Linked DNA regions of Homo sapiens: region 1 is reported to be linked to region 2. Evidence: microRNA targets listed by miRTarBase, many of them from high-throughput screens and not tested one by one. Region 2 holds a microRNA gene; the other region holds the end of a gene's coding sequence.

Region 1 (4,065 bases), not on the chromosome of region 2:
AGGCCTGGTGGCCCCTGAGCTGCTGCTCCGAGTGGAATGTCCTGGTCTAGAGGCCCTTGGCTGCTCCAGTGTCTTAAGACCCATATATGAGTGCTGGCTCTGACCTTGAACAAGCTCCTCCATCGCTCCAGGCCTCGTTTTTCAGGTGTATATGATGATAGTATCTCTAGGCCTCGTTTTTCAGTTGTAAAGCAGGGATGATCATATGTGTTTAACTCCCAGATTGTTATCAAGTCAAGGACAACAATAGGAAAACATGTCACCTGTCAGCTCCACACAAGGCAAAGTAGGATGGGTGACCCCTGACTAGGGGGTGGGAGTGCAGGGGGCACCCGACCCATCTGGCCAGCCACAGCCTCTGTACCCTGCTCGCATTTTCAGGCCTCAATCCCCAAGCACTGTTGGCCCTGGACTGTTTCCCCCCCTCAATTCTGTTTCTCAATGCCTGCTTCTTCCCAGTAAGTGCCACACCCTGAGGGTGGGTGGGAGAGTGAGGCAGCACTGCCCACTTTGGCTGGGACTGGGCACTGCTGGGGACAGCACGGGCCACGTCTTCCCCATCTCAAGACTGGCTTTTTGGCTAGGCATTGTGACTCACGCCTGTAATCTCAGCACTTTGGGAGGCTGAGGTGGGAGAATTGCTTCAGCCCAGGAGTTCCAGACCAGCCTGGGCAAAATAGCAAGAATTCATCTTTATGAAAAAGAAAAAAAAAATTAGCCAGGCATGGTGGCACACACTTATAGTCCCAGATACTTAGGAGGCCGAGGTGGGAGGATCCCTTGAGCCCATGAGTTGGAGGCCGTGGTGAGCTATCAGTTGCACCACTGCACTCCAGCCTGGATGGCAGAGCAAGACCCCAACTCAAAAAAAAAAAAAAAAAAAAAAAGGCGGCCTTTTCCCAGCTGGCAGCACCCTGGCTAGTTAGGGTTTCTCCGAATCTGCAACTCCTGTGTGATGGCGGGTCTCAAATGCTGGCAGCAGAGTCACCGGTCAGCGGCAAGACCTGGAGTCTCCATTTGGAACCAGCACCCGGGAGCCTCTGCTGGGGGTGATCATGGAGCCGCACGTGGAGGCTGGTGGCTCTGATGGTTCGAGCCGTTCCTCGGCAGCACAGCACACCCGCTCCTGAGGAGCCACGGAGCTCATGAGCGTTGGCAAAGTGCTGTCAGTGCTGGCTGTAAGGAAACAGGCTTGACTTTTAACTCAGCCTTTCCCAAACTTGACTATAATACTTTCTTGAAAATCAGAATAACCACTAACATCACAAAACGAGTGTTCTCAGGAGTGGGCATGTTTATCTCGTTCTCTTTTTTTTTTTCTTTTTGAGACGGAGCCTCGCTCTGTTGCCCAGGCTGGAGTGCAATGGTGCGATCTCGACTCACGGCAATCTCCGTCTCCCCGGTTCAAGCGATTCTCCTGCCTCAGGCTCCCGAGTAGTTGGGATTACAGGCGCACGCCACCACGCCCGATTAATGTTTATTTTTAGTACAGACGGGGTTTCTCCATGTTGGTCAGGATGGTCTCGAACTCCTGACCTCAGGTGAGCCTCCTGCCTTGGCCTCCCAAAGTGCTGGGATTATAGGCGTGAGCCACCACGCCCAGTCTTTTTTTAAATATTTGAGTGAAATAAAGCCTAGGAGATATGTGTTCCAGGCGCCCAAGCTGTTAATGTGGAGCTTGAATGTGGCCTGGACCTGCCCTTTCCTCTTCTCCTTTCATCCCCCTCCCTGCCGCCCACATCCTGAACTGCTCTGAGCCTGCAGAAGAACCCAGCGGGAATCTTCAGGGTTGTGGAAGGGTGTAGGGATGGAAAGGGACCAGGATTCGCCTGTTTGGCTGGGAAAATCGGTAGAGGAGGGTGGCTCACACTTCTAAGATGTCTGCACAAGCCCAGTTTGTTTGGGGGTTGGGGAGGAAGGTCTTTTCCTGGCCCACTGTCCCTCCCGAGTCAGCAGTCCCCCAGAGAGACGAAGAGCAGCTGGGCACGGCTGGAGCTGGTCGGTGGCAGAGAATCTTGTCCTGCCTTTTCTTCTCAAGCTCAAAATAGGCACATGCAGCTATTAACTGATATGCCAGAAGGGGCATCCCTTACCCGGAGGAAAATGGATTTATTGCTTTATAAAAAAGAAGTCTAATAAAACTGAAGAGAAAATAACTAAAAATCCAAACACAACTCACCCCTCTAAGCACGCCCAGGAGGTCTCAAGACACACTTCTGGGGGCAGTCAAGGTGGGCGGGTTGGTGGGCCAGGCGGACGGGCCTCCCCCGTCATCAGCTCCAGGGCCCCACGGAGCCCGCCGGCAGGGGGTGCTGTGGGCCTGTGGCCTTGGACAAGCTCCTGGCCCCACGCCAGGATGGCTCCTGGGCACTGGCCCAGCTGCAGGCCTGGCGGCTCCCGCCTGGTCAGTGGGGATAAGGGCTAACTCCTAGAGCCCACCCCGACCCCACACACACCTCGGACCCACCCACGTCCCCACCCCGGCCTGGACCTCCACGTCTGCCGGCCACAGCCTTTCGTCCACCTCCACAAAAGCAGCTGTGTGTATGTACGGGGTGCCCTGGCGGCGGTCCTCAAATTCCCTTCAGGTGGCAGACAGAACGAGGGTGACAGTGAAAACGTGTCCGCGGCATTGGCCCTCGGGGAGGAGGCGAGGGGTCCACCCAGCCCGCTAAACCCTCTCCAGGGCATAAGCCAGGTGGGGCTTCTCCACCGGCCTCCAACGGGTGGGCAGGCCCTGGACAGGCGACAGGGGGCTGGAATTACAAAGGAATTAGCACCGACAACAGGAAGCGGGTCCTTCCTTCCTCAGGCAGCCTCAGGCTGGCCGGGGAGGGGGTGGGGGCCAGGCGCGGGCGAGACAGTGCAAGCCTTTGTCCTCAGGCAGGTACGGCTGTGGGCATGCAGCCGAGGGGCAGGTGGCAGGCAGGGGATGGCAGCCCCCTCTGCTTTGGCAAGAGGCAGAATCCAGACACTGGCGGGAGAGCGCCTGCCTGCCGGGCGTTCCTGGCTCCTGCTGCAGGCACCACAGAGACCCCAGGCCCCGGGTCCCCGGGGGGCGGCAGAGCAAAGTCAGGGCAGCCCCTGCGTTCGGCAGGAGAAAACGCGCGTGTCCGGGGCCCTCTCCCGTCCTTCCACCACAGAGCTCCGAGGCAGGGCCCCGGGAGGGAGCGTGAACGCTGGCACGGAGACGGCGAAGGTCCTGGGGGTGCGTGGGGTACTCTGGAGGGGCAGGACAGGGGTCAGTCACTGAAGCACAGGCAGGAGACCGCAGTTCCGAGGCGGCAGCCACTACACGAAGGCCTCCTGGTTGGACGAGCCGTTGATTTTGAGGAAGAGTTTGTCATCCTCCTGCCTCTGCTGCAGCTGCCGCTCCAGCTGGCGCCGGTAGCAGATCAGGTAGAGCGGGAGGCAGAAGCCCAGCAGGCTGAGAAGGAGCAGCCCCACGTTCACCTGGGGAGGCAGGGAGGCCGCGCATCACAGGGCGTGGTGGTGCGCCGAGGCTGCAGACCCGCCCTCCACTCGGGTTTGGGAAAGGGGAGAAGGTCACGGGGTGGAAGGGGGAACGAAACAGGAAGGCCCACGAGGTCCCATATGCCAGCGTCCCGGTTCCCAACTCTTCACAGGCCATGTGGCCACCCTCAGGGCCTGGGCCCCCAGGAAACACGGGCTGATCTGAACCTCTGGGCTTGGAACAAGTTCCTGGTACCTGGTGAGGAAATCTGGCCCTCGGAGGTGGGGCGGGGACAGGAACTGTGTTCTTTTTTTTTTTTTTTTTTTTTTTTTGAGACGAAGTCTCGCGCTGTCGTCATTCAGGCTGGAGTGCAGTGGCGCAATCTCAGCTCACTGCAATCTCCGCCTCCCGGGTTCAAGTGATTCTCCTGTCTCAGCCTCCCGAGTATCTGGGATTACAGGCACCTGCCACCACACCTGGCTAATTTTTGTATTTTTAGTAGAGACCTGGTTTCACCATGTTGGCCAGGCTGGTCTTGAACTCCTGACCTCAAGTGATGCTCCCGCCTCGGCCTCTCAAAGTGCTGGGATTACAGGTGTGAGCCACCGCGC
Region 2 (4,068 bases):
TCCAGACAGGTGCCTGGGGGTCTTTCCTCCCGAGACGAAGCCTGCAGCAGTTCAGCCAGAAGATGGGGTATTTGGCTCTCAAAGTCAGCCTCCCCAGAGACTCTGCAGGGTTTAATAGCCTGGTGACCCTGTGGGCTCTGGCGAGGGCAGAACCCCACTTTGCTTTCCAAATGCTCAAAGGGGAACAGATGAGGCTATCCCACAGGCTCAGAGCAAATCTGTCCTGTGTGAGTGCAAACGTGGTTCTAGAAGATTCAGAGGCAAAGCTGAGCTTTTGCAGCCCAGCCCCAAGCCCTTGCTCTCGAGCACCAGGGCTGCGATCCTTCGACTTGGGGTGGGCCTAGGAGGCGTAGCTCCCAGCCAGCAAGACAACACATAACACATCTGAGTTACCGTGCATGTGTTTGCTGGTCTCTTCTCCAGCTCCGTGAGGCCTCCCACCTGGGAGCTGAGCCTTTTGCTTTGATCAGGCTGGGAGGAAAACCTAGGCCAGGAAGGGCCGGGCTGCAGGCTGGAAGTGGAAAGAAGTGGGCCAGGTGGACAGAAAAAGGGGCCACCAACTAAGCCACCTTGGGGGTCGGCCCAGAGTGAGAACTGGGCTGGCATTCTGGGTTCAAACACACAAGAAAACTGTCTGCAGCCTCTCTGCCCTGGCACCAACATGTGCCTGCTCCAGGAAGTTGCACCCAGCCCTGAGTCAGCCAAACCCGTGGGACTCCCATTTGGCCCCAGTAACTGGACTCCAGGCTACCAAAGGCCTCGTGGGTTCTCGATCGTATCTTAGAATGGCGTTAAAAGGTCCAGACCCGGCACCTGTAGGCCATGCCGTATTTAGCCCTAGGTTCACCCGGAGAATATTTTAGGTGCTACTTGAAAGAAGAGATCTGGGCCCTAGTTGCCGGCTGTCACATGGCAAGGGTAGAATCGCTCCCTCACAGACCTGGCCGAGATGGCCGGGTGCTCACTGGTACAGGTGCCCAGAGTCCCTGCCAGAGCTTCGGGGCCATGCGACGGGTGCCAAGGAGCCAGCTAGCGACTGGGGCGTCGGTTCTGTGTGGGGATGCCTTTTCACCCCGTTCTCAATCTGAAGGCAGTGAATCCACTTCCATTCACAGAACTCACAGAGGCCTCTCCTCTCTGAGATGGCCCAGTGTGATATCCCAGGCTGCGTAGTAAGCTCCTCCTCTGGTGTCAGCCATGTGGAGGGGTTAACCCTTTCCTGGCTCTGAGGGTGCTGGCTGGCACAGGGGGCACCCACCTGCAGGGCCTCAAAGGTTATATGCCTTGGGGAAGACACCCTGAACTCCTTAGTCCTCAGATCTTAGTGGCTGAACCAAGAGATGGCACCTGGGACCTTAGCAGTAAAACCCGTCCCCTTTTTTTTGAGACAGTGTCTTACTCTGTTGCCCAGGCTGGAGTGCAGTGGTGAGCACAGCTCACTGCAGCCTGAACTTCCTAGGCTCAAGCCTCATCCTCCTGAGTAGCTGGGACTACAAGCACACACCACCACACCTGGCTATTTTTTGCAGAGACTTGGGGGGGGTCTCACTGTGTTGCCCAGGCTGTTCTCAAACTCCTGGCCTCAAGCAGTCCTCCCACTTTGGCCTCCCAAAGTGCAGGGATTACAGGCGTGAGCCCCCACGCCAGCCGGTTTGCCCCTTTTGCACCACCAGCGATAACCACTCAGCTCCCCTACCCAAGCCTTAGTCCTTCTGTCCGTGTTGTGGAAACCAGGTATTTTCATCAGCATTTCCAAGGGGACTAAGTTTCTCCCATTCCAGAGGAGGAGGTGTTGAAGGATAACTTAGATCATTAATGAGGGTCTGGAACAGTCATCTGAAGTTTGGGGGAAACGTCACGTCTCCTATGATGCGCCTGGCTTTAGGGAATAATCCTTGTATCCATTTTGGGAACCTGCTCTGGGATTCCAGATCTGTGGTTTTCTGAGCACGTCTGTGTGGAAGCTGCTGCACTGAGACCTATTTAGCCAATTATTGAGAAGATGAGGTCCCTTTCGTGAGTCTGCACGGAGCCGCCGTACACCATGAAAGCGCTCACTTGTTTAAAGTTTGCTCTAACTTTGTACATTTTTTCCTTTTTAGTTTTGGCTCTTGGTGCTCTGAGAGCTACCACTTCCTGCCAGCTGGTTCGTTACCGCAGGGAAAATGAGGGACTTTTGGGGGCAGATGTGTTTCCATTCCACTATCATAATGCCCCTAAAAATCCTTATTGCTCTTGCAGTATTCCTCGGGGGTCCCTGGGCCAGAAAGACATCAGCTCGGAGTTCCTCCAGCAACTCAAAGAAGAGAGAAAGCTGTTCCCCAAACTCTTCCGCTGTAGCGCCTTCTGGGTCCCTGGTAGATGCCTTCTTGTGCTCAAAACCGGTTATCACTGTGAAAAATTGAAAGACGCCATGCGCAGACACTGGTTGCTAAACGTGCTTTTGCCCTCCAGGGGCAGACGCTGAGATCCGGCCTGGGAAGGAGTACAGCTGTGGCTCCCCATCAGCGTCAGCATTTGCTCTGGGGGGTTGTAGGGGGAGGTAGGGAAAGCGGAAAGAAACAAGTGTTACCTGTTTGACGAGGCCTGGTCCTTGCAGCCAGGGCCTCCGGGATCATCGCCTTGGCAGGGGGCCCTGGGGCAGTCCTGGCTTTCCTGCTAGCTCCCTGAGACAGAACACTTTCCCCGCTCGCTGCCTCAGTTTCCCCATACACCAAGGGAGGGGCAGCACCCCCTGCTCTGGCTTCAAAGGGTTCTTGGATGTAGCCAATGTTATATATAAAAAGCTCTAACGTTGTATAAGCTCTGAAGGTGCTTTGAAAATTGGAGAGTCCATGCATTAAACATGGAAGGTAATAATATGAATACACACAGAGGAATTCATGGGTGGGGAGACGGCAGCCCAGCACTGAGCCTGGGTTTCTGGGATCAGCCAGGCCTGCATTCCAGCCCGAGCTCTGCGCCTCTCTTGCTGTGTCACCCGGGACAAGTGAGTCAGTCTCTCTGAGCCACCAGCTCCTCAGGCATGAAACCTGTAACTCAGACTCCCAAGTCTGATTTGCACATCTCTGATTTTAAGCGGCGCCGGCTAAAGGTGAAAATTATTCTAGTAGGTATTCTTTGCACCGCTGATTTGTACTTCAGGCAATTGGTTGGTTTTCCATTTAGGGTCGGGAGACAGGGGCCCTTTTTTTGTCCATCAATTGATGTCAGTTAAACAAAAAAGAGTGGGTGTTTTGGAAGAAAAATATTAAGCAACTACAGCTGCCCTGAGGATGGGACAGAAATCAGAAAGTCGTGTGTAAAGTTTCAGAGGTCCACTTTTAGAGAATTCTTGTTTATCTCAGGGATTTTCCGCACTCCTGTAGTCGGTGTGGGGAGGGGTGGGGGGAGATGGGGGAGTTGCCAGTTCAGATCTGTAGAGGGCTCCAGCATGACAAAACTGGGTGTCACACATCTTCCTTTTGGGGGTCGGGAAACCACCCTTCCCTGCTCACCGACACCACTGGGACCCCTCACCCCCCCACTCCTGCATTGATCCATAGCTCAGATTTCTCTCTCATTTTAGGGTCACGATGACTCAGCACCCTCCTTTCTGGCCAGGGCACCTCCCTTGGCCTCTAGGGGCACTTGCCTGACAGGCCTCACTGTGCCGGACCTGGGAGCCAGCTGCCCACCAGCCCCCTGGGACTCTGGTTTTGCAGGGAAACCATGGGTGATCAGTCCCAGCCGGCAGGGGCCAACTGCGGTTTCACTTTCTGCTGCATCATGGGGTGGGGGGTGGCAGCGGGCCCCCGCTGGCCAGCTAGAGCAGGCACTGAGAGGCCTGCAGACAGCTGCCGGCCCTGCTGCCAGAACGCACCCCCCACCCACCCCCTGCAGCCTGCCAGGATGGGGGCTGGGCTCTCAGGAGCCCCTTAAATCTTTCCACCTGCACAGTGTCGGGGACCTCAAGTGAGAAAAGCCTGGAGCCGATGAGATGGTTTCCTGAGCTGTTGGAGATTCCCCCAAAACAACCTTTTTTTTTTTTTTTTTTTTTTTAATTGAGACAGGGTCTCTCTTTGTCAC

The links. Region 2 holds the annotated microRNA hsa-miR-365a-5p (AGGGACUUUUGGGGGCAGAUGUG, at 2,169-2,191, shown strand). A microRNA usually pairs through its seed, bases 2 to 8, with sites in the 3' UTR of a target mRNA and lowers its output. Matches are read on the target gene's strand: a 7mer-m8 pairs with bases 2 to 8, a 7mer-A1 pairs with bases 2 to 7 and ends in A, and an 8mer does both.
Region 1: the mRNA of SLC43A2 is a reported target of hsa-miR-365a-5p. Seed matches in the 3' UTR shown: 7mer-A1 at 516-522.

The regions. Positions count from the first base shown.
Region 1 is chr17:1,572,313-1,576,377 of GRCh38, forward strand. SLC43A2 (solute carrier family 43 member 2) reads right to left here. Exons shown (of 14, transcript NM_152346.3): 14 at 1-3,453. The coding sequence ends at 3,292. Among named protein-coding and RNA genes, the nearest start is that of PITPNA, 12 kb to the left of the region's middle. RefSeq lists enhancers at 3,204-4,016, 4,017-4,065.
Region 2 is chr16:14,307,132-14,311,199 of GRCh38, forward strand. It overlaps MIR365A (microRNA 365a), which reads left to right and starts at 2,154; the gene lies at 2,154-2,240. The region is part of intron 1 of MIR193BHG (MIR193b-365a host gene); the gene reads left to right. RefSeq lists enhancers at 1-24, 25-709, 1,505-1,554, 3,441-3,735, 3,527-3,646 and 1 more and a silencer at 3,321-3,615.